Regions from separate parts of the Homo sapiens genome. Here all the other regions are linked to region 3. The links come from fine-mapping of genetic effects on gene expression. Tissue or cell type: prefrontal cortex. Region 3 holds a variant in brackets; each other region holds the start of a gene. All regions are shown on one strand. Distances are between the middles of the regions.

What was found. PIP is the estimated chance that this variant, and not a neighbour inherited with it, causes the effect.
Region 1: ZNF473 starts here. The variant in region 3 is fine-mapped to the expression of ZNF473 in prefrontal cortex (BrainSeq, PIP 0.95).
Region 2: it holds the start of ZNF473-AS1, and the variant in region 3 is fine-mapped to the expression of ZNF473-AS1 in prefrontal cortex (BrainSeq, PIP 0.95).

What each region holds. Positions count from the first base shown.
Region 1 is chr19:50,021,301-50,029,383 of GRCh38, forward strand. It overlaps ZNF473 (zinc finger protein 473), which reads left to right and starts at 4,705. Exons shown (of 5, transcript NM_015428.4): 1 at 4,705-4,822. It overlaps VRK3 (VRK serine/threonine kinase 3), which reads right to left and starts at 4,072. Exons shown (of 15, transcript NM_016440.4): 1 at 3,967-4,072. RefSeq lists enhancers at 3,378-3,879, 3,929-4,008, 4,349-4,398, 4,809-4,858.
Region 2 is chr19:50,041,037-50,049,119 of GRCh38, forward strand. It overlaps ZNF473-AS1 (ZNF473 antisense RNA 1), which reads right to left and starts at 3,653. Exons shown (of 2, transcript XR_007067295.1): 1 at 3,596-3,653; 2 at 1-1,838. ZNF473 (zinc finger protein 473) reads left to right here. Exons shown (of 5, transcript NM_015428.4): 4 at 694-783; 5 at 3,634-7,740. The coding sequence ends at 6,023.
Region 3 is chr19:50,138,697-50,146,798 of GRCh38, forward strand. SNAR-B2 (small NF90 (ILF3) associated RNA B2) reads right to left here and starts at 541; the gene lies at 422-541. SNAR-D (small NF90 (ILF3) associated RNA D) reads right to left here and starts at 1,624; the gene lies at 1,506-1,624. It overlaps LOC105372436 (a long non-coding RNA gene), which reads right to left. Exons shown (of 3, transcript XR_936021.4): 2 at 5,331-5,419. The variant G/A (reference allele first, on the strand shown) is at 3,174.

The sequences.
Region 1 (8,083 bases), 120 kb before region 3:
CCCCCTTTGGATCTCGGCAGAGCTGTGACTGCTCCTACCAATAGAGGACCGGCAGCAGTAAGGCCATGAGACTTCCCAGGCTGGGTCATAAAAAACAACTTGCACCTGGCTGGCTCGCTCAGGATGCTCACCCATGGAAGCCAGTTTCCACGGCATGAGGCAGCCTAAAGTAGCCCAGGCAGAGAAACCACATGGAGAGGCTCAGGTGGAGAGGAACTGAGGCCCCTGGCCAACAGCCACCATCAGCTGCTGGGTGAGTGGGCAAGTCCTCAGACCACTTAAACCCCAGCCTTCAAGTCTTCCTGCTAAGGCACAGGCACTGGGGAGCAGAAACAGGCCACCTCACTGTGCTCACTCTGAATTCCTGGCCCATAGGATCCATGGGCACAAGAAATGGTGGTTCTACACCAGTGAATTGTGGGACGATTTGTTCTCTAGACATAGTAACCGGGACAGGGAGTCCCTGCTGCACAGAGAGGTCAAGTCACTCACTTAAGACGGTTCTCATTTCATGACAGTTCAGTATGTGCAGACCACTGTGCTAAGTTCTCGGCAGGTATTATCTACAGAACCTTCCCAATCACCCTTTTCAAGGTAAGAATGATTTCCCCTTTGGGGAGATGAGAAGCAGAGGCTCAGAGAGCAAATGACTTGCCCAGGGCCACAAACCTCTTAAGCGGCGAGCCAGACACATGATTTTGTTTAATCTTTCCCTCCACTCTATGAGGTAGGGATGATTATCCCATCTTTGAAACCTACAAAATGATGCTCAAAGGGTGACAATTCTCCTTCCCCCAGACCTGACTCCACTCACCTAGAAAACAGTGGGGACGCAGCTGAAATCCAGAACCCAAAAGCCCATGTTCTTCACCTGGTGCCAATTTATACAACGAAAACGCAAAACCGGACTGGGTTCTTGGGGCAGCAGGTCAGAACATTCTTGTAGATTTAAATCTGGAAGCTGATGTTGGGTGTGGAACCACGGCAAGAGAGTCTTTTAACCATGTGCCACCCCCGGTTCTGACACCGTCACCAGCCTGGTCTAGGCCACCATCTCTCCCTTGTGCTACTGCAGCAGCCTCCTAACTAGACTTTCGGCTTCTACGCTTGTCCCTACAATCTATTTTCAACCCAGTAGCTTGACGGATCCACTTAAAATCTAAGTCAGACCCTGTCTGTGTCCCTGCCCTGGCCCATATGGTGGGTCGGACACGGTGGCTCACGCCTGTGATCCCAGCACTTTGGGAGGCCGAGGTGGGCGGATCACGTGAGGTTAGGAGTTCCAGACCAGCCTGGACAACATGGTGAAACCCCGTCTCTACTAAAAAAGTACAAAAAAAAAAATCAGCCGGGCGTGGTGGTGGGCACCCGTAATCCCAGCTACTTGGGAGGCTGAGGCGCAAGAGTCGCTTGAACCTGGGAGGCAGAGGTTGCAATGAGCCAAGATTGCACCGCTGCACTCCAGCCTGGGCAACAGAGCAAGACTCAGTCTCATAAATAAACAAATAAATAAATAAAATGTAAGTCAGACCCTGTCCCTCCTCTACTCAAAACCGTATGGTGGATTTCATTTTAGACAGAATAAATGCTGAAATTCCTACCATGGCCCAGGAGCCCCCTGTATGATCTGCCACTTCCCTGTTCCCTCTCTGACCTCTCCCACCTCTCCCCTTGCTCACGCTGAGTCAGCCACAACAGCTTCGGTGCTTTTCCCCAATCGTGACAAGAACGTTTCTTCCCCAAGACCTTTGCACCTGCTCTCCCATCTGCCTGGAACGCTGTCCCCCTAAGAGTGCACACAGTTAACTTCCTCATCACATTCTTTAGCTCTCTGTTCAAATGTCACCTTCTCAGAGACCTTCTTGGACACGATTTTACTGTGTTTTTTCTTTTCTTTTTTTTGAGATGGAGTTTGGCTCTTTTCGCCCAGGCTGGAGTGCAATGGCACGATCTCGGCTTACTGCAAACTCTGCCTCCCGAGTTCAAGTGATTCTCCTGCCTCAGCCTCCCATGTAGTTGGGATTACAGATGCGTGTCACCACGCCTGGCTAATTTTATATTTTTAGTAGAGATGGGGTTTCACCATGTTGGCCAGGCTGGTCTTAAACTCCTGACCTCAGGTGATCCCCCTCAGCCTCCCAAAGTCCTGGGATTACAGGCTCGAGCCACCGTGCCTGGCCCTGGACACCATTTTACTAATAGCATGTTTTATCCTCCTTACCTTGCTTTATTTTTCTTCACAGTGCTTGTCACTACCTGACATACTCTGACTTACTAGAATGTAAGCTTCATGATGGCGGGGACTTTTCCCTGCCTTGTTTGCCACAGTGTGCCCAGAGCCTCAAACAGGCCTGGCACAGAGCAAATGCTGGGTCTACGTCTGCTGAGTGAATAAATCATTGTCTCCTTTGCAAAAGAAAATGTGCCAAGAAGGTGGGTGGGGGGGGTCCCCAGCTGTGTCAGTACACATTCATCTCTCAGGCAAATCTAGACATCCAGCCAGAGACTCAAAGCTCAGGGCCGGAATTATCTAGCTGGATGGTCCCTAAAAAAGACGTGCCACTTAGAAGCAGATCAGTACAGGGGTTAAGAGGATAAACTTGGGAAATAATCTGCCTGGGTTTGGATCTTGCTTCTGCCATGTATTGCATGATGGACAGAGTTTTGCTATGTCACCCAGGTTGGAGAGCAGTGGCACGACCTCAGCTCACTTGCAACCTCCGCTTCCTGGGTTCAAGCGATTCTCCCTGCCTCAACCTCCCGAGTAGCTGGGATTACAGGCGCATGCCACCATGCCCGGCTAATTTTTTTATTTTTAGTAGAGATGGGGTTTCACCATGTTGGCCAGGCTGGTCTCGAACTCCTGAACCCAGGTGATCCGCCCACCTCGGTCTCCTAAAGTGCTGGGACTACAGGCGGGAGCCACCGTGCCCAGCCAAATTTTTTGGATTTTAGAACCTATTACATATTACAACACCGGCGAGATCCAGGGGCAACTCTCCATAAGTATATGATTTGCACAACAAAATCTTTAAAAATTCTAAATAGTCACACATCAGTTCAGAGTGGGTATTGCCAGCAAACAAGTTCAAAGCCAGGTGAGGTTGGCCTGCCAAGTAAGTTGCAAAACAGAGAAAAAGACCTTTCAGTTTTCAGAACGTTTTGGATTTTAAAGTTATAGATAAGGGACTGCAGACCTGTAAATATTCTTTAACATTTCTTTTTTAGTGTCTGGCATCCCCAACCACCCTGAGAATGTGAATTAGCTGGGCAGGATTTTTGTTTTAGACACTGCTATAATAACCTGGGCTTGAACAGTGCCTATTAGACTAGCACCGTTCAAACCCAGGTTATAGTAGTGTAATATCGGTTGCACGGAGCCTTCCATATAGTAAACGCTCAATAAAATTGGATGTGCTGAAGTCACCTATGCAATGGCCAGGTCAGGACTTGAAACCCTAAGACTCCAACCCTCAGGCCAGTCTTTATCTTAATTTATTTGACTTATTCAACAAATGTTTAGGGAACAGCTGCTATGCGTCAACTACTGTATAGTGTTCCTCCTAGAAAGTTCAGGAAACAGCACAGCAAAAAGGCTAAAAGTCAGACCCCACCTCAGCGCAGGTGGGGCGATTGCCTAGGCGACGACAGAGCCTCCCTTCGGCCGCACCTCCATAGAAACCACGGGATGACTTAGACGCCAAGTTTCACAGCGGAGGAGCTGTCGAACTTCCCACAAGTTCCGCCCATCTCCGCCTTAGCCATGCCCAACACGGAGCCCAAGGTGGCTTGGGAAGCTCAAGAGGAGGCCAGTGAACCCCGCGACCCGGAGCCGCTCTCATTCCGAACCCCGACAGCAGGGGCCTCCGCCTCCCACAAACGGTCGTGCTGACGTCACGGACGCCCCGGCCGAGCTGCGGCTAGGGGGTCGGGGGACGTCCCCTCGTTCGCCTCGCTTCCCCTCACCTCTGTACTTGGGGACTGGGGTGGGATTCTGGGCTTCTGCAGCCTGACCCTCGGATCCTCCGCAGTTACCCGGACTCACCTTCTCAGTTGCCCAGCGAAAACTTCCGCTGGGCGGAGAGCGCTGCGCGCGCATCCTGAATCTGAGGCGCCCGCGCAGGCGCCGCTGACTTCCTGACGGCCCCTGGGCTTCGCCTGCCTGGGAACTCCGTTTCCCAGATGCCTCCGCGGCAGGCCCGCCCTCTGATTCCAGACGGAATGGGGATTATTCCCTCATTGCTCATCCCCCTCCCCTCCGTTCTAGCCGCTTTGGAACGCCTTCTGGTTCTACTGCGCATGTGTCAGTGTCAGACCAATCGGAATGCACCGTGAGGTACCTCTCCACCAATCAGAGGTCACATTACCTAAACTTCTGCCTCAACTCCGCCCCTTACTTCCGCTTGTTTTCTCAGAAACCCGTCACAACGCGTTTCCATGGCAACCTACCGCTTGCTCTTCGGAAAAGGTTAACACTCCCTGACTTCTAGTAAAGGCAAGAAGCTAATTAGATGATTCTTTAACAAGGTAAAAATCTGGACTACAAACTGATGCCGCCTGGTCCTGATTCTCTTTCTACTCTACTCCCACAGTGCTAAGGCTGAAGAAGCAGGAGGAGATGGGAAGGCGAAAGAAGTCGCCCGCACAGCCCTCTGGGAAATAGAGTCCTGGCGCTGCCGCGGAGGATCCTGGGTGCAGCCGCTCAGAGAAGCTTCTCGCGCACAGGAAGTCGCTGCGAGGAGGCGCGTGTGCGGGGAGTTGAATCTCCCGCTCCCTTGAGGCTGGGGTTGCGTCTGTTGACGCGGCCGACTACAATCCCGAGGTACGGAGACGCTGGGGCTGAGGGACTTGCGGGCTCGGTCCTTCCTGAGAGGTGACGGAATGCAAGTGGGGGCGACTTCGGCAAAGGGTGCGTCGCCTTGGGCGGCGGTTGTCAGGGTGAAGGTGTGAACCGTCTTTCACAGTCTGTTATGAAAACCGCTCAAGGTCTGGGCACGGTAGATCACGCCTGTAATCCCAGCACTTTGGGAAGCCTTGGCGGGGGGGATCACTTACAGCCAGGAGTTCCTCGAACCCCCAGTCTCTACTAAAAATACAAAAATTAGTTGAGCGTGGTGGCGGGGGCCTGTAATCCCAGCTACTCAGGAGGCTGAGGCAGGAGAATCGCTTGAACCCAGGAGCTGGAGGTTGCAGTGAGCCGAGATCGCGCCATTGCACTCCAGCCTGGGTGACAGAGCGAGACTACATCTTAAAAAAAAAAAAAAAAAAAGAAAGGAAGAAAACCACCTTGGGAGGCTGAGGTGGGCGGATCGCTTGAGCCCAGGATTTCGAGGCTAGCCTGGGCCAGATGGTGAAGCCCTGTCTCCACAAAAGAAGAAAAAAATAGAAAAATTAGCCGGGCGTGGTGGTGCGCCCCTGTATTCCTAGCTAATTGGGAGGCCGAGGTGGGAGGATTGCTTGAACCCAGGAGGCAGAGGTTGCAGTGAGCTGAGAAAGAAAAGAAAAGAAAAGAAAACTGCTAAAGGGGTTTCCAGGCCTCCCTGATGGCCCTGAGAGGAGTGGTTCTGTTTTATTTTGGTTTTGGTTGGGGAAGGAGGGGAATGAGTTACCTGAAGTTGGCAAATTTAGGCAGAATCTTGCTGGACGATGGATGGGAGTTCTTCGGGAAGTTGAAGTACTTAACATTTACAGTATTTGAGTGCTTTCTGTGTGCCAGGCGCCCTGCTGGAGTTGCATTTCCTCTTCTGATCCCCGCAGCAGCACTGAGACATAAGTGCAGGTCCCCTTGGCACCAAGGCAATCTCGGGAATCAGAATTTTTCAGATTTTAGAAAGCTAATAGGGTGCATATTTTATAATTAGGCAGCACCCCCCCACACCCCGAGGAATCTGGGCCAGTTTTTGGTCATAAAATGTTTCTGTGGGGCAAGGTGTGAATATTCACACTTATGAGAACATTAAGACCCTACATGGCCTGTGGCAATCCAGGTGAAGTTTTGCGGTCAGTTTATAAATCAAGTTCTGGTTTTTGGAGCATTTAAAGGACCATAGATCTGTTGTATTTGTTCCATTTGGTACATGTGGAAACTAAGGCTTAGAGAAGGTAAATGGTCTGGAAGGAAGGGCAAGACTCTTGGGCCCAAGGTCTCTCAGCCTGATAATTGTTTGGCTTAAGTCACTCTGGGCTGGATGACCTTGGGCTCCACCTCTGGGCCCTCGTTTCTTTCCTCCCAGAGCTGAGAGTATATGAGATGTGGGCAGAATGTGATTTGGTAACTGCAGACAGGGATCTCAAGCTCAGCTGTCTGTGAGGGCCAGGCAGATGACATACAGGAAAGAAGAGAACTGGTCCAGGTGAGGCTGCGGGGCCTTGGGGAGCACTTGCCTCATCTGAAGGGGAGAATTGTGTTTTTTTTTTGATGACAGAGTCTCGCTCTGTCACCCAGGCTGGAGTTCGGTCTCACTGGAACCTCCACCTCCCCGGTTGAAGCGATTCTCCTGCCTCAGCCTCCCAAGCAGCTGGAATTACAGGCGTGCACCACCATGCCTGGCTAATTTCTGTATTTTTGGTAGATACGGGGGTTTCACCATGTTGATCAGGCTGGTCTTGGACTCCAAACTTCAGGTGATCCGCCTGCCTTGGCCTCCCAAAGTGCTGGGATGGCAGGCATGAGCCACTGCACCCAGCCGCTTTTTAAACTTAAATTTAATTTTTTTGGCCGGGTGTGGTGGCTCATGCCTGTAATCCCAGCACTTTGGAAGGCCGAGGTGGGTGGATCACGAGGTCAGGAGATCGAGACCATCCTGGCTAACACGGTGAAACTCCGTCTCTACTAAAAATACAAAAAATTCTCCGGGCGTGGTGGCAGGCGCTTGTAGTCCCAGCTACTCAGGAGGCTGAGGCAGGAGAATGGCATGAGCCCGGGAGGCAGAGCTTGCAGCGAGCTGAGATCGCGCCACTGCACTCCAGCCTGGGCGACAGAACGAGACTCCGTCTCAAAAAAAAAAAAAAAAACAAATTTAATTTTTTTTTGGAGGCAGGATCTTTCTCTGTCATTCAGGCTGGAGTACAGTGACACAATCATAGCTCACTGCAGCCTTGAACTCCTGGGCTCAAGTGATCCTCCTACCTCAGCCTCCCAAGCGATCCTCCTACCTCAGTCTCCCAAGTAGTTGGGACTACAGGCACGTGCCACCACAACTTGCTCATTTTTAATTTTTTTTTTTTAGAAACAAGGTCTTGTTACGTTGCCCAGGCTGGTCTCGAACACCTTTCAGCCTCCCAAAGTGCTGGGATTATAAGCATCCCCCACTTGCCTAGCACTGGTGGGGGAGCTTTAAATGGGCACCAGTGAACTAACTTCGTGGGATGTAGACCCAATGTTGCCAAATCCTAGGATGTTTCAGAAGTTGGAAACATAATTTTTAGGTGAAATTTCCCAATTTTCAAGTTTGAGACTAGTGAGCCATGCTTGAATTTTCTTTCAAAACATTCTGTCTGCCAACAAACATTATGGGCCAAATATCTGTCAACTGAGTTATACTCGTAGGTTGAGGCTTAACCTCTGACATGTAGAAAAACTCATTGTTCAGTAGAATTAGCATTTATTGTAGGTCTACCATATTCCCATATTTGTAGTCTCAAAAATCTGGACAACTCAGAACAACAAATTTTTTTTCATAAATTTAGTGTCCGTGCCTTACCTGAACTACTACAGGGTATTTTTTAAATATAACTTTAAATTATTCTACCTAGAATGAACGATGATACTTTTCTCTAGGGTAAAGTGTTCAATTATGAAATGCAGCCTGATCCACACTGCGCTGGGACTTTGTTTTGTTTTGTTTTTGTTTTTGTTTTTGAGACGGAGTCTCGCTCTGTCGCCCAGGCTGGAGTGCATGGCGCCATCTCGGCTCACTGCAAGCTCCACCTCCCGGGTTCACACCATTCTCTCGCCTCAGCCTCCTGAGTAACTGGGACTACAGGCGCCCACCACCATGCCTGGCTAATTTTGTTATTGTATTTTTAGTAGAGACGGGGTTTCACCGCGTTAGCCAGGATGGTCTGGATCTCCTGACCTCGT
Region 2 (8,083 bases), 98 kb before region 3:
TTTATTATGTTACAGTCCTGGAGGCCAGGAGTTCCAAATGCATGTGGCTGGGCTGGAGGCGAGGTGTTGGCAGGGCCACCATGTTCCTTCTGGAGGCTCCAGCACGTAGATAGTCCTTCCTGGCCCGTTGCCAGCTTCTGGAGGTCACCTGTATTGCTTGACTCATGGCTTCTCAGTCTTCAAAGACAGCAGTGGCGTTTTCTCCGCTGTGGCCTGTATCCCTCCTGGATGGTGACTCTGTTCCCTTCCTTGGGGAAGCTTGTGGAGGGTATGGCTCAGGACTGCTTGGGCTCTGGGACCCTGACATTTTCTGTCCCTGGCCCATGGAGGCCTCAGGCAATGTGTGGCCCATGGGTCAGTGAATAAATCATGAATGGCTAAGGAAGTACGTGCCTCTCCACCTGGCAGATCCTGCCCATTAAAGAGCTGTCACAAGTCCTTTGTATCCCCAGCCCCAGCTGTCACAGCTTTGATCACCCTGGATTGTGATTGTTTGGCTCCCTCTCCATCACTGGACTGGGAACCCTACAGGACAGGCATCCCCAGAGTCGCCCAGTGCAGCACCTCGTCCACACACAGGAGCCACGTGCAGGATAAAGCATAGAAAAGTCAGGAGAGCCAGGAGGTTCTCACTGAGTGTCTGGATGGTCCTCCATGTCCTGGTTGGGTGACAATGCTTTTCTCTCCCTGCAGACCCCCCAAGACCCAACCTGACCTCCCACCCAGATGGCAGTGAAGATCTGGAGCCTCTGGCAGGAGGAAGCCCAGAAGCAACAAGCCCTGGTGAGTGGATGGAGAGGGGCCCCTTGTGTACCTTCTGTCTTCCAGACCTCCATCCTGAGGCTGCAGCCAGCTTTCCCACAGGTCTACCGAGACATTACAACGCTCAGCTTCAGGACTTCACTCTGCTTCTCGCTGGCTTCCATCCCCTTGTCCTGGGAGCTGGGGGGATCAGGACATTTTTATAGACCCTCACTCTGGGGTCTCTCTACCTTGCCCTTCAGCACAGGGTTATCCTGGTGCCTCTCCACAGCTCCTCCTCTTTCCTTCCAGACTCAACAAGGGTACGCCCTCCACTCTCTCAGTTGGTCTCTCTACTTTCCTGCCTTGTGCTCCCTGAGTGTGTTGACCCTCATTCTACTTCTTTTACCTCCTTTCCTTCAGGCCCATTTTTCCTTCCTATCCCTGGGGCATAGCAGATGGCCACATCAGGGAGTAACTTAAGCCCAGGCCTGAATGCTGCCAAGAGCATCTGCCCTGCCATCTCCCAAGCCGGGGTTCCTCCAGGTGGATCAGGTTAGGTGGTGAGGATTCCTGGGGTATTACCCATGGTAGAGACGTCCCCAGCATGAGAAGCAGGGCCCTGAACCAGAGACCACAGGAATCTCAGGCTGTACCCCATCCAGTCAGTCTGCAGCTCCCTTCTTGGCTCACCACGCTCAGGCTCGTGTACATGAGGCCTCTGCAGCCTCCTCTTCAGCACATCAGTGTTCCTCATAGGTGACTAACTCATGCACAGGCTCTCACAACTTCTGCTTTCTGTTTCTGTCACCTCAGCATATTGGCTGTTTCCAAACATAGGTAGCCATGCCTTTACTAACAAATATACCTCCATATCCTCTAGTAGTGACACTTGAGTTGCATAGTTACCACATAAGCGTCTTTCCCCTTTAACAGCATGCCGCTCTTGGAAGCAGGGCTTAGCTGATTCACCCTGTATTCCCAGCTCCTGACATCATGCTTGGCATATAAGGGGTGCCTATTACATGTCTGTTGGTGCATTTGAGGCCGAGGGAACAACATGAGCACAAGTGTGGTGAGGAGAGTGAGCTGGATATCTGTGGGAGAGATGAGCAGAGGCAAAGGTGACAATTCAGAACAAGATGTGGTTTCAGAAGGCTTTCATTTGCAAGTTTTAATTCCAGGCAGAGAGACTTTAAGCAGTCTCATAGATACTCAGATGGTGAGCCAAGAACTGCACAAGGGACAGGCTGGAAAAGGTATGATGATGGAGGAGAGGAGAGATGGGGAGACTGGAGGCATACAGCAGAGCAGTGACATTCATGTTTTGTGAAGGATCCCAGAGAGCATACAGCTTGGTAGTTAAGAATATGGGGGCCAGGCGTGGTGGCTCATACCTGTAATCCCAGCACTTTGGGAGGGCGAGGCAGGCCGGTCACTTGAGGTCAGGAGTTCGAGACCAGCCTGGCCAACATGCTGAAACTCTGTCTCTACTAAAAATACAAAAATTAGCTGGGCGTGGTGGAGGGCACCTGCAGTCCCAGCTACTCGGGAGGCTGAGGCAGGAGAATCACTTGAACCCAGGAGGCAGAGGTTGCGTTGAGCTGAGATCGTGCAGCACTTCAGCCTGGGCAACAGGGCAAGACTCAGTCTCCAAAAAAAAAAAAAAAAATATATATATATATATATATATATATAGTCAGAGGGGTTCAAATCCTCAGTCTTCTGCTCACTTACCTGTAAGAAAGCAGAAACGTGCCTACCTTACAGGAGGTTGTCGAGTGTAACAGAGTGCCTGAGGCACTCCTGCCTGTGAACAAGCATACCATGAATGGGAATTACTCTGTCCTGTGAATCTTTCTCGTGGCCGCCTCTGTGGCAGTGGATGGATGAGCAGTGGAAGGTCCCCATTAAAGAACTTACCTTCTGGTAAGGGTCAGGGGTCAGACCCTTTCATAACCTGTTATGGTAGAGGATGGTCAGTGCTCAGCTGGTTTTCAGAGAATACAGGGCAGGGGACTTAAAGCAGAATGGGGATGGGGTTGTCAGGGAAGCCTTTCAGAGAAGGGTGATAAGCTGGGTATTAAAAGACTTAGAGGAGTTAGTCCAGGAAGTGCCATCCAGCATGAGGGACCATTAAAGGCACAGAGGAGAAAGTCTGGTGGATTTAGGGAACCGCAAGAGTTCTATGAGGTCAGCACAAAGAACACTGGGCTAATACACTCATTTCTTTTCTCCAGGCAGGAAGCCATGGAAGGGTTTAATCAGAGGAGTGATATAGTCAGATCCATTAACTACAAAGCCCTTTAGGGCTAGTGTGGAAGACTAGAGAGAGAGAGAGACAGACAAACAGGAGACCAATGAGCAGCCTGGGGTCAGATGCTGAGTCAGTGATAAAGAGAGGAGAGGAAGGGAGTTGAGACATTTCGATAGAGACCAAATGAAAATAGTGCCAAGTTGAGGGAGGTAGGGAGGAGGTTGACTCCCAGGATTCTAGCATGGAGAACTGGATGGATGGTGGTGTGGGGAGAGCGGGGTGTTGTCTGGGATAGAGGATGCAGGATATGAGGAGGAAGATTTTGGTGACAGTACAGGATAGAGTGGAGAGTAGAAGCAGGTGAGTCCAGGCGATTTTTTAGGGAACTTGGTCAGTCACTTAGGTGTGAAGGTAATGGTAGAATCTCCCTCCTCGTTGAACCCTATGGTTTCCCAACTCCCTTCTTGACCCTCCTGGGAATGGGCTCTGTCTGTTTTCTGTGATGCCAGTTCCACATGGGTCACCCCTTTGGGTCCCTTGATGGATAGGCTGGACTCAAGATCTATCACCCCTACTTGCTCTTGTCTGTGTTCTCACCCTTAGTGAACAGGAGACATTTGCACTTGCTCTTTCAGATGTGACTGAGACCAAGAACTCTCCTCTGATGGAGGATTTCTTCGAAGAAGGATTCTCCCAGGAGATTATAGAGATGTTATCCAAGGATGGCTTCTGGAACTCCAATTTCGGAGAAGCCTGTATAGAGGACACCTGGTTAGATAGTTTGCTAGGCGATCCAGAAAGTCTTCTGAGGTCTGATATTGCCACCAACGGGGAAAGTCCCACGGAATGCAAGAGTCATGAATTAAAGAGAGGACTCAGTCCTGTGTCCACCGTTTCCACGGGAGAAGATTCCATGGTGCATAATGTTTCTGAAAAGACCCTCACACCAGCTAAGTCTAAGGAATATAGGGGTGAGTTTTTCTCCTACTCCGACCACAGCCAGCAGGATTCTGTTCAGGAAGGGGAGAAACCATATCAATGTAGTGAATGTGGGAAAAGCTTCAGTGGGAGTTACCGTCTTACCCAGCACTGGATCACTCATACTAGGGAGAAACCCACTGTCCATCAAGAGTGTGAGCAAGGTTTTGACCGGAATGCTTCCCTTTCTGTGTATCCGAAAACTCACACGGGCTACAAATTCTATGTGTGTAATGAATATGGGACAACTTTTAGTCAGAGTACATACCTGTGGCATCAGAAAACTCACACTGGAGAAAAACCATGTAAGAGTCAAGATAGTGACCACCCACCCAGTCATGACACACAGCCTGGTGAGCATCAGAAAACTCACACAGATAGTAAGTCCTACAACTGTAACGAATGCGGCAAGGCTTTTACCCGGATCTTCCACCTTACTCGGCACCAGAAGATCCACACTCGGAAACGCTATGAGTGTTCCAAGTGCCAGGCGACCTTCAACTTGAGAAAACACCTCATCCAACATCAGAAAACTCACGCTGCAAAAACTACCTCTGAGTGTCAGGAGTGTGGGAAGATTTTTAGGCACAGTTCGCTGCTCATTGAACACCAGGCTCTTCATGCTGGAGAGGAGCCTTATAAGTGTAACGAACGTGGGAAATCCTTCAGGCATAACTCTACCCTAAAGATCCATCAGAGGGTTCACAGTGGAGAGAAGCCTTACAAATGCAGTGAGTGTGGGAAGGCCTTCCACCGGCACACTCACCTTAATGAACATCGGCGAATTCATACAGGCTACAGACCCCACAAATGTCAGGAATGCGTCAGGAGTTTCAGCCGGCCCTCACATCTGATGCGACATCAGGCCATTCACACCGCAGAAAAGCCCTATAGCTGTGCTGAATGCAAGGAGACTTTCAGCGATAACAATCGCCTTGTGCAACACCAGAAAATGCACACTGTCAAAACCCCATATGAATGTCAGGAGTGCGGAGAACGCTTCATTTGCGGCTCAACCCTGAAGTGCCACGAGAGTGTTCACGCCAGAGAAAAACAAGGATTTTTTGTGAGTGGGAAGATCTTGGATCAGAACCCAGAACAGAAAGAGAAGTGCTTTAAGTGTAACAAATGTGAGAAAACCTTTAGCTGCAGCAAATACCTAACTCAGCACGAGAGGATTCACACCAGGGGAGTGAAGCCCTTTGAATGTGACCAGTGTGGGAAAGCCTTTGGCCAAAGTACTCGGCTCATTCACCATCAAAGAATCCACTCTAGAGTGAGGCTGTATAAATGGGGTGAGCAAGGGAAAGCCATCAGCAGTGCCTCCCTTATCAAACTTCAGTCCTTCCACACAAAGGAGCACCCTTTTAAATGTAACGAATGCGGAAAGACCTTCAGCCACAGTGCACACCTCTCAAAACATCAGTTAATTCACGCTGGAGAGAATCCCTTTAAATGTAGTAAGTGTGACAGAGTCTTCACCCAGAGAAACTACCTTGTTCAGCATGAGCGAACTCATGCCAGAAAGAAGCCGTTGGTGTGTAACGAATGCGGGAAAACGTTCCGTCAGAGCTCATGCCTTTCTAAGCATCAGAGAATTCACTCAGGTGAGAAGCCCTATGTATGTGATTACTGCGGGAAGGCCTTCGGCCTGAGTGCTGAGCTTGTCCGCCACCAGAGAATTCACACTGGAGAAAAGCCTTATGTTTGTCAGGAATGCGGGAAAGCCTTCACCCAGAGCTCATGCCTTTCTATTCACCGGAGAGTTCACACTGGGGAGAAGCCCTACAGATGTGGTGAATGTGGGAAAGCCTTTGCCCAGAAAGCAAATCTAACACAGCACCAGAGAATTCACACAGGGGAGAAGCCTTACTCCTGTAATGTGTGTGGCAAAGCTTTTGTCCTCAGTGCCCATCTCAACCAGCACCTGAGAGTTCACACCCAGGAGACACTTTATCAGTGTCAACGTTGCCAGAAAGCCTTTCGGTGCCACTCGAGCCTCAGCCGCCATCAGCGTGTACACAACAAGCAGCAATACTGCCTGTAGCCATTGGGTGGCAGCAGAGTCCCAGAATATGAGACCGTTACTCGGATGTTGAAAGTTGGAAACTATCCCATTGCAAGTTTCTCTCCAAATAAATGCATCTAAAGATTGATTAGAAAGTTTGTGCGCATGTTTTTCATTATAACAATGAAAACACAAAAGTGGAGAAGCTGTACAACGTCAGGATTCAGAGGTAGGCTCTGGAGCCAGTCTACCTTGAGTTAAATCCCACCTCTGCCATCTACTACCTAAGTGACCTTGGGAAGGTCAGAAAAATCTCTCAGGGCCTCGGTGTCCTTATCTGTAAAATGGGCATCACCTACCTCAGAGGGCTTTTCTGAGGATTAAATAAATAAATGTGAAGCACTTAGAACTGATGGCCAGCACATGAGGGCTCACCAAGTGTAAGCCACAAATACACATCAGCTATAGCACAAATATACTTGTGTTACAAGAAAGGAATTAGTAATCTGTGTTTACTGTAGTTAATGTTCTTACAATGTATCGCTTTTAATTTAAGTTTTCCTTTTTTACAGTTTTTCTCCAGCACTTTACTCTTCTTAAGTGCCTGGCCTTTTTTGTCCCTTTATCTCTCCTGGTTTTTTTCTTAAGCCCCAGAAAGCCAAAAAGAACATGTAAACTCTTCACCTCAACTAGCTACAACCTTCCACTCCTAACCTCCCAAGCTTCTCACTTAAAGAGGACTCCCTATCCCACAAACACATGCTCCCTCTTCCTATGACCTTCCTCCATTTAACAGTGTTGGTTATGCAATAAGACACCCAATTTTTCATGGGAGTTGACACCAAAACACAGCTGGATTCCATCAGGAAAGCTGCATTGATCAGGGTGTTAACCGCATATGAAACAACCCATATGGAAGACATACTTAGGGGTCAAACCTGTGGTGTGTGGAAGTGACCACTGGGATGTCATCATTCACCATTTATCCAGGATGGCCGCTCACCAGGCAATTTGCTAGGCTCGGGGGCGGGTAGTATCCATACACTATGCACTACTGCTCTGAAGCTTCTGGAATCAGAAATGAACCCATTTTCATCGACGATTGCTGTTAGTTGACAAGTGACATCTTGAAAATGCCACATTCCCTCATGTCACAGGAAGTTCTGGGATCACCAAGGATTGTTGGAGAGTCCAGTGAGATGGAACCACACAACCAGTTCCCTACCAGTGTCTTGTCAGCTCTGGGTGTTTGTTCCCTGCCACTAAGTGGCTCAGTCACACCTTTGCTGAAACACAGTAGTCTTATGAAAAGCACTGGACACATACTTTGAATACCTTTCATATTTTAGGTGCTGAAAATGGTGAGGGAGTGAGTGCTCTGCACCCTTGGGCTTTTCAACTCTTGCACCTGGAGTTCTGCTGGTTAAGTTTGTTAAACTTAGTTGAAACTGGGAACCTGTTGGCTAACCATTGGGGCCTTACACTGTTTTTCAAATGGTTGCAACATTTAACTTCTCGCACATGGTTCCCGTCCTCTGGAGCTCTGTCTTGTCGGGGAGATGGGCATGTTGTATACCAAAAGAGTGTACAAAGTGTTGCAGGGCTGTGACACAATAGGGACTCTATGGAAAACTGGCAGCCATTGGGTGTGGGGGCAGTCTGTAAATCAGTCACCTGTGTTGCTGCAGGCCAAGGTAGAAACGCCCTCCGTGTGTGCATATTTGTTGGTTCTCTGATTAAAGTTTTGAGTCTAAAAGCATTGGTTCCTTCTCTCAGCCTGCTGCCATGCAGCCACGCATCAGTCCCTGCCTGCCAGGCCTCACGTCTTTGCTGGGGAGGGCTTCTGGTGGCGATCAGTAAGAGGGAGCAGCTCAGTTTTCCCACTGTCTGGGCGGGGCATGCGCCACTGAGGAGGCACACAAGTTCAGCTGGTCCTCAGATGCATCATCAAACAACACTTTTCAGTCTGTGTGTGGGCCTAAGTAACCAAGGAGAGAGCACAGGCAGCCTGCAGTTCACTCTTCACAGACATGTCAGGCCCCAGGCTTGGGGAGTGTTTCTAATTAGCATCCAGTAATACATATAACTTTGTTTATACT
Region 3 (8,102 bases):
GCACTCCAGCCTGGGCAACAGAGTGAGACCCTGTCTCTAAAAGAATAGAAGAGGCTGGGCGCGGTGGCTCACGCCTGTCATCCTACCACTTTGGGAGACCAAGGCGAGTGGATCATTTGAGGCCAGGTGTTCAAGACCAGCCTGGTCAACATGGCGAAACCCCATCTCTTGGCAGGCGACTGTAATCCCAGCTACTCAGGAGGCTGAGATAGGAGACTCCCTTGAACCGACGAGGCAGAGGTTGCAGTGAGCCAAGATCACACCACTGCACTCCAGCCTGGGCAACAGAGCAAGCCTCGGTCTCCCAAAAAAAAAAAAAAAAGAAAGATACATTGAAGTAATTTAAAAACACTTAGGAAGATGTCATTTCTTCCTATCAAGGCGTCCTCCCTTTCTGTTTTGTTGTTATATTGGGAACGATAAAAAAATTTTTTTTTCAACCCATGTGGACCAGGTTGGCCTCGAACTCGTGCCCTCGAACCCTCGCCTACCCTGAGGGTCCGAGGGCCCGCGCAACCGGCCGGAGCCACAATGGCTCCGGGTGTCGGGGCTGTCCTGTAGGCCCTTTGATCTTACGCAGGGTGAGGGAGCCAATCACCAGAGGCTCCCCCCTGTCGTCACCCAGTCCCCAGGGCCAGTGAGGGCCCTGCGTTCCATGGCGCCCCCTGGAGGGAGGAAGGGGAACTGTAGCTGAGAGTTCAGTATCTGACAATAAGGAAAAGGCATAGTAGATCAGATGGTGCCTAGTGTTCTGGAGAGAAGAAACAACGGGGTTGGCGAATTGGCAGTTGCACTTTATAATACAGGCCTCATGTATAAGGCAGACCTCATGGGGAAGGTAACATCTGTGCAGAGAAATGGAGATGAGGGCTAGGAGCCATGCAAATACTGGAACATGCTTGCCAGCAGAAGTCGAGAAACATGGCCGGCACAGTGGCCCACACCTGTAATCCCAGCACTTTGGGAGGCCGAGGCAGGCAGATCACGAGGTCAGCAGTTCGAGACCAGCCTGGCCAACATGGTGAAACCCTGTCTCTACTAAAAATACAAAAATTAGCTGGGTGTGGTGGCACACTCCTGTAATCCCAGCCACTTGGGAGGGTGAGGTAGGAGAATGGCTTGAACCTGGGAGGTAGAGGTTGCAGTGATGCAGTGAGCTGAGACCACACCATTGTACTCTAGCCTGGGCGACAGAGCGAGACTCCATCTCAAAAAAAAAAAAAAAAAAAAGCAAAAACAAACAGGTGAGATTCATTTTGATAAAATAGCTGATTTAACCTAATATACCTAAAACATCATAATTTTAACATAATATAAACATTTTTGCAAGATTTTATGTTATTTTTTACCATACGACGTCTTGGAAATCAAGAAACAGAGCAAGCCTCGGTCTCCCAAAAAAAAAAAAAAGATACATTGAAGTAATTTAAAAACACATAGGAAGATGTCATTTCTTCCTATCAAGGCGTCCTCCCTTTATGTTTTGTTGTTATATTGGGAACGATAAAAAAATTTTTTTTTCAACCCATGTGGACCAGGTTGGCCTTGAACTCGTACCCTCGAACCCCTGCCTCCCTGAGGGCCCGAGGGCAGGCGCATCCAGCCGGAGCCACAGTGGCTCCGGGTGTCGGGGCTGTCCTTTCTTCCCTTTCTCCCTCTCGTCTCCTGTCTCCCGTCTCCCTCTCCCCACGGTCTCCCTCTCCCTCTCCCTCTCCTGTCTCCCGTCTCCCGTCTCCCTCTCCACATGGTCTCCCTCTCCCTCTCTTTCCACGGTCTCCGTCTGATGCCCAGCCGAAGCTGCACTGTACTGCTGCCATCTCACTGCATCCTCCCTGCCTGATTCTCGTGCCTCAGCCTGCCGAGTGCCTGCCATTGCAGGCACACGCCGCCACACCTGACTGGTTTTCGTATTTTTTTGGTGGAGACGGGGTTTCGCTGTGTTGGCCGGGCTGGTCTCCAGCTCCTAACTGCGAGTGATCCGCCAGCCTCGGCCTCCCCAGGTGCGGGGATTGCAGATGGAGTCTCGTTCACTCAGTGCTCAATGGTGCCCAGGCTGGAGTGCAGTGGCGTGATCTCGGCTCGCTACAACCTCCACCTCCCAGCCGCCTGCCTTGGCCTCCCAAAGTGCCGAGATTGCAGCCTCTGCCCGGCCGCCACCCCGTCTGGGAAGTGAGGAGCGTCTCTGCCTGGCCGCCCATCGTCTGGGATGTGAGGAATCCCTCTGCCTGGCTGCCCAGTCTGGAAAGTGAGGAGCGTCTCTGCCCGGCCGCCATCCCATCTAGGAAGTGAGGAGCGCCTCTGCCCGGCCGCGACCCTGTCTGGGAGGTGAGGAGCGTCTCTGCCCAGCCGCCCCGTCTGAGAAGTGAGGAGCCCCTCTGCCCGGCAGCCGCCCCGTCTGAGAAGTGAGGAGCCCCTCCGCCCGGCAGCCACCCCATCTGGGAAGTGAGGAGCGTCTCCGCCCGGCAGCCACCCCGTCCGGGAGGGAGGTGGGGGGGGGGTGGTCAGCCCCCCGCCCGGCCAGCCGCCCCGTCCGGGAGGGAGGTGGGGGGGTCAGCCCCCTGCCCGTCCAGCCGCCCCGTCCGGGAGGTGAGGGGCGCCTCTGCCTGGCCGCCCCTACTGGGAAGTGAGGGGCCCCTCTGCCCGGCCACCACCCCGTCTGGGAGGTGTACCCAACAGCTCATTGAGAACGGGCCATGATGACAATGGCGGTTTTGTGGAATAGAAAGGGGGGAAAGGTGGGGAAAAGATTAAGAAATCGCATGGTTGCCGTGTCTGTGTAGAAAGAAGTAGACATGGGAGACTTTTCATTTTGTTCTGTACTAAGAAAAATTCTTCTGCCTTGGGATCCTGTTGATCTGTGACCTTACCCCCAACCGTGTGCTCTCTCAAACATGTGCTGTGTCCACTCAGGGTTAAATGGATTAAGGGCGGAGCAAGATGTGCTTTGTTAAACAGATGCTTGAAGGCAGCATGCTCCTTAAGAGTCATCACCACTCCCTAATCGCAAGTTCCCAGGGACACAAACACTGCGGAAGGCCACAGGGTCCTCTGCCTAGGAAAACCAGAGACCTTTGTTCACTTGTTTATCTGCTGACCTTCCCTCCACTATTGTCCTATGACCCTGCCAAATCCCCCTCTGCGAGAAACACCCAAGAATGATTAAAAAAAAAAAA[G/A]AAAGTGTTAATGACAGATTTGCCTCCATTAAAAGCCAAGAAAGTCAAATTATTCAAATTCTGTCTAGGGTATATATGAAAGATTTAAATGTAAAATAATGTTGTGAATTTCAACACATTTACTTCATTTTTCAGTATTTTTCAACTAGTTTAGCATTCCAGGAAAAATAAATTTAGAAAAAATATATAAAAACTTGCGCAGGGCACAGTGGCTCATGCCTGTAATCCCAGCACAGGCCTTTGGGAGGCCAAGGTGGGTGGATCACTTGAGCCTGGGAGTTTAAGACTAGCCTGAGCAACATGGGGAGAGCCTGTCTCTACAAAAATAATTTAGGAATTAGCTAGGCATGGTAGTGTGTGCTTGTAGTCCCAGCTACTCAGGAGGCTGAGGCAGGAGGATCCCTTGAGCCCAGGAGTTTGTTACTGCAGTGAGCTATGATCTCACCACCACACTCCAGCCTGGGCAATGGAGCAAGAACCCCTCTCCTTAAAAAAAAAAAAAGCAAGTATATGGGGGCACATACATTTCCTTTGAAATAGCAGTCTGATGTGGCATGAGACTGGCCTTTTTAAAAAATTTGATATTTTGTTCATCATTGATTTTTTTTGCATTGATTTTGATTTTTAAAAAATGTTGCATTATTATTGTTATTGTTATTATTGTCACTCTGTCACCCAGGCTGGAGTGCAGAGTCTCCCTGAGTTCAAGTGATTCTCCTGCTTCAGCCTCCCAAGTAGCTGGAACTACAGGCGTGTGCCACCTCACCCTAATTTTATTTTTTATTTTTATTTTTTTTGTAGAGACAGGGTTTCGCCATGTTGGCCAGGCTGGTCTCAAACTTCCGACCTCAAGTGATCCACCCACCTTGGGCTCCCAAAGTGCTGGGATTACAGGCGTGAACCACCGCGCCTGGCCAATATTGCATTAAATATTCTTTTATCTTGATTGCTGCATTTGGGGCACACATTTACATTTGGTACTGGGTGAATACAGCTCCCTCTGGCCAGGCTCCAGCCAGCCCCACTCCTCCAGGGTGAAGTCCACCGCCACATCCTTGAAGGTCACTGATTCCTGCAAGGGCCAGTTTCATTCTGTGGAGTGGCACGTCCTTCTGGAACTTGGGGGCAGAAGTGTCAGGGGTCAAGAGCCCACAACAGCCCCCTGGGCTGGAACATTCTGATTGTGCAGAATTGGGATGCCTGAATCCAACTGGCCTATGGGAACCTATCTAAGGCAGAAACTCGCCCATAGGCACCTTGGTAGAAAGTAGAACAAGGAGCCCTTTCACATGACTCTTTACTGCCATCTGTTGGGAAGTCATTGTAATATACCAATTAATTTAGTATATGACAGTTTATCAAACTGCCTGCAAACTGCCACCAATGTATGAGGTATAAGGTGGGAGTCCTGCCTGGGATGAGGCACACTTGTGCAGTGCATAACCTGCACAGCTCTAAGTGACAGCCCTAAAAAATGCTTTTTTTTTGAGATGGAGTCTCGCTCTATCCCCCAGGCTGGAGTGCAGTGGCGCAATCTCGGCTCACTGCAAGCTCCACCTCCCGGGTTCACGCCATTCTCCTGCCTCAGCCTCCCGAGTAGCTGGGACCACAGGCGCCCGCCACCACGCCCGGCTAATTTTTTGTATTTTTAGTAGAGACGGGGTTTCAACGTATTAGCCAGGATGGTCTCGATCTGACCTCGTGATCCGCCTGCCTCAGCCTCCCAAAGTGCTGGGATTACAGGCATGAGCCACCGCGCTCAGCCTAAGAAACACTTAAAGAAAAATCCGTCAAGCCGTTTTGTGCAGGAGATATTCGCAAGTCCCATTCTATCCCAGACCCCATCCCTGATCCTCACCCCCATTCCTGACTCCAGAGATGAGGCTCAGGGATGAAGCAAAACCATCCATTGCCCACTTTGCCTGGTAACTGAAAGGCTGCAGTGTTCGATGAAAAATGTTTAGACTGCGCGACATGGTCCCAGCTCAGAGCATTCTGCCTCTGCCTCCTGCCCCTGGGCACTGCCCGGCTCCCCTCTCCTCATACCCCCTTTCCCAGTATTGGAAGAGTCAGGAGACCTTGAGATCATGCACAGGGATGAAGAGGGCCCACTGGAGTCCACAAAGTTATCCTGGGGAAGAGGAAGCCCAGACTCACCTGGCCCTCGGCCATCAAGGTCCCATTGGCCATTGCTGGGTTCTGGGCATGTGCCTCTGGGAGAAGGGTTCACGCCAGGGCCCGAAGAGCTGGAGGAGGAGACCACAGCAGAAAAAGGGTCATTTGTGACCCTGACAGACAGATGCTTTCCCCAAGACTCCTGGTCACGGAAGGGGCCATGGTCCCCTAAGAGTCAAAGCAAAGTCCCAGGACAGGCCACCTGAGGCCCCCATTCCATACCAGTGACAACAGCCAGCAACCATGAGGCTGTCTCACCTCCCCGACACAACAGCTCTCGGACGTGGGAACGATGGTTACCCCTAGATGAGGACATTGAGGCACAAGAGGTCAAGACTTGCTCAAGTTCATGGAGACAAAAAGTTTCAGAGAAGTCTAGCCACAGGGCCACCCCTATCTTTTATATATATATATATATATATTGTTTTTTTTTTTTTTAGATGGATTCTCACTCAGTGTCCCAGGCTGGCTGGAGTGCAGTGGCGCCATCTCGGCTCACTGCAACCTCCGCCTCCCAGGATCAAGCAATTCTCTTGCCTCAGCTTCCTGAATAGCTGGGATTACAAGCACCTGCCACCATGCCTGGCTAATATTTACATTTTTAGTAGAGATGGGGTTTCACCATGTTGGCAAGGCTGGTCTCGAACTCCTGACCTCAGGTGATCTACCCACCTCGGGCTCCAAAATTGCTGGGATTTTAGGCCTGAGCCACTGTGCCTGGGCCAGGGGTTCTTATTTATTTATATAATTTATTATTTTTTAATAATACAGACAGGGTCTCTCTATGTTGCCCAGGCTGGTCGCGTACTCCTGGGCTCAAGCAATCCTCCCACCTCGGCCTCCCAAAGTGCTGGGATTACAGGCATGAGCCACCACACCCAGCCTTGGCAAAGATTCTTAAAACTTTATTCCATAAACTGGGACTTCCTGCCTGGTGGGGTAGACAGGCTGTATAACAGCCCCCAGAGATATCCCTGGAACCTACAGATCTTATCTTATATGGAAAAGAGACTTTGCGGAAGGGATTAAGTGAAGGATCTTTAGATGGGGGGAATTATCCTGGATTATCTGGGCGGGCACTAAATGCCTTCACAAGTGTCCTTATAAGAGGGGGCAGAGGAGAGTCTGACACAGGGCAGAAGAAGGCCATGCACCAGAAGCAGAGAGCAGCAGAGGCTGAGAGAGAGGACGCTACACTGCTGGCTTTGATGACAGAGGAAAGGGCTACAAGCCAAGGAAAGCAGGCCCCTGGAAACTGGCAACGAGGCAGCGAAACAGATCCATCCCTGGAGCCTCTGGAGGGAGCATGGCCGTGCTGACCCCTTGATCCCTTTGAATCCCGCTTCCAACTTCTGGCCTCCAGGATTGTAATATAATAAAATTGTGTCATTTTAAGTGTGTGGCAATTTGTTACAGCACCATGGGAAACTAATACAGTCCACAGAATGAAAAGATGCAGCACCTCACACACATTTCCCAGGCGAGAAGCCATACACATCCCCGGCTACACAGAACACACACACCTGAATGCTGAAACTAGTGCATGAGGTGTTTTTTTTTTTTGAGACAGAGTCTCTATCTGTTGCCCAGGCTGGAGTGCAATGGCGTGATCTCGGCTTACTGCAAGCTCCACCTCCCAGGTTCACACCATTCTCCTGCCTCAGCCTCCTGAGTAGCTGGGACTACAGGAACCTGCCATCACTCCTGGCTAATTTTTTTTTTTTTTAGGAGAGACAGGGTTTCACCATGTTAGCCAGGATGGTCTCAATCTCCTGACCTCATGATTCACCTGCTTCAGCCTCCCAAATTGCTGGGATTACAGGTGTGAGCCACCACACCTGGCCTAGTGCACGAGGTTTTGATGAGAAAATGAGGAAGAGAGTCTTAACTTTATCCCCATGAATCACTTGTTAATTACAAAAAGAACAGGGTAACTTTTTTATCTTATTTAAATAATTAATTTATTAATTTGGAGACAGGGTTTCGCTCTTGTTGCCCAGGCTGGAGTGCAGTGACTCAATCTCAGCTCACTGCAACCTCCACTTCCTGGGTTCACACAATTCTCCTGCCTCAGCCTCCCGAATAGCTGGGATTACAGGTATCCACCATGACACCTGGCTAATTTTTTGTATTTTTAGTAGAGATGGGGTTTCACCATGTTGGCCAGACTGGTCTCGAACTCCTGACCTCAGGTGATCCACCCGCCTCAGCCTCCCAAAGTGCTGGGATTACAGGCGTGAGCCACCACACCTGGCCTTATTTTATTTTTGAGACAGAGTCTTGCTCTGTCACCCAGGCTGGAGTGCAGTGAGGCGATCTTGGTTCACTGAAACTTCCACCTCCCGGGTTTCAAGTGATTCTCAGGCCTCAGCTTCCTGAGTAGCTGGGGTTACAGGAGCCCGCCACCACGCCCAGCTGATTTTTGTATTATTATTATTATTATTATTATTTGAGATGGAGTCTCGCTCTGCCACCTAGGCTGGAGTGCAGTGGCGTGATCTCGGCTCACTGCAACCTCCACCTCCCAGCTTCAAGCGATTCTCCTGCCTCAGCCTCCCAAGTAGCTGGGATTACAGGTGTGTGCCACCACACCAGGCTAATTTTTTTGTATTTTTAGTAGAGATGGGGTTTCACCATGTTGGCCAGGCTGGTCTCGAACTCCTGACCTGGGGTTATCCGCCCCCCTCGGCCTCCCAAAGTGCTGGGATTACAGGTGTGAGCCACCGCGCCCAGACCAGGGAAACTAGAGAGGAG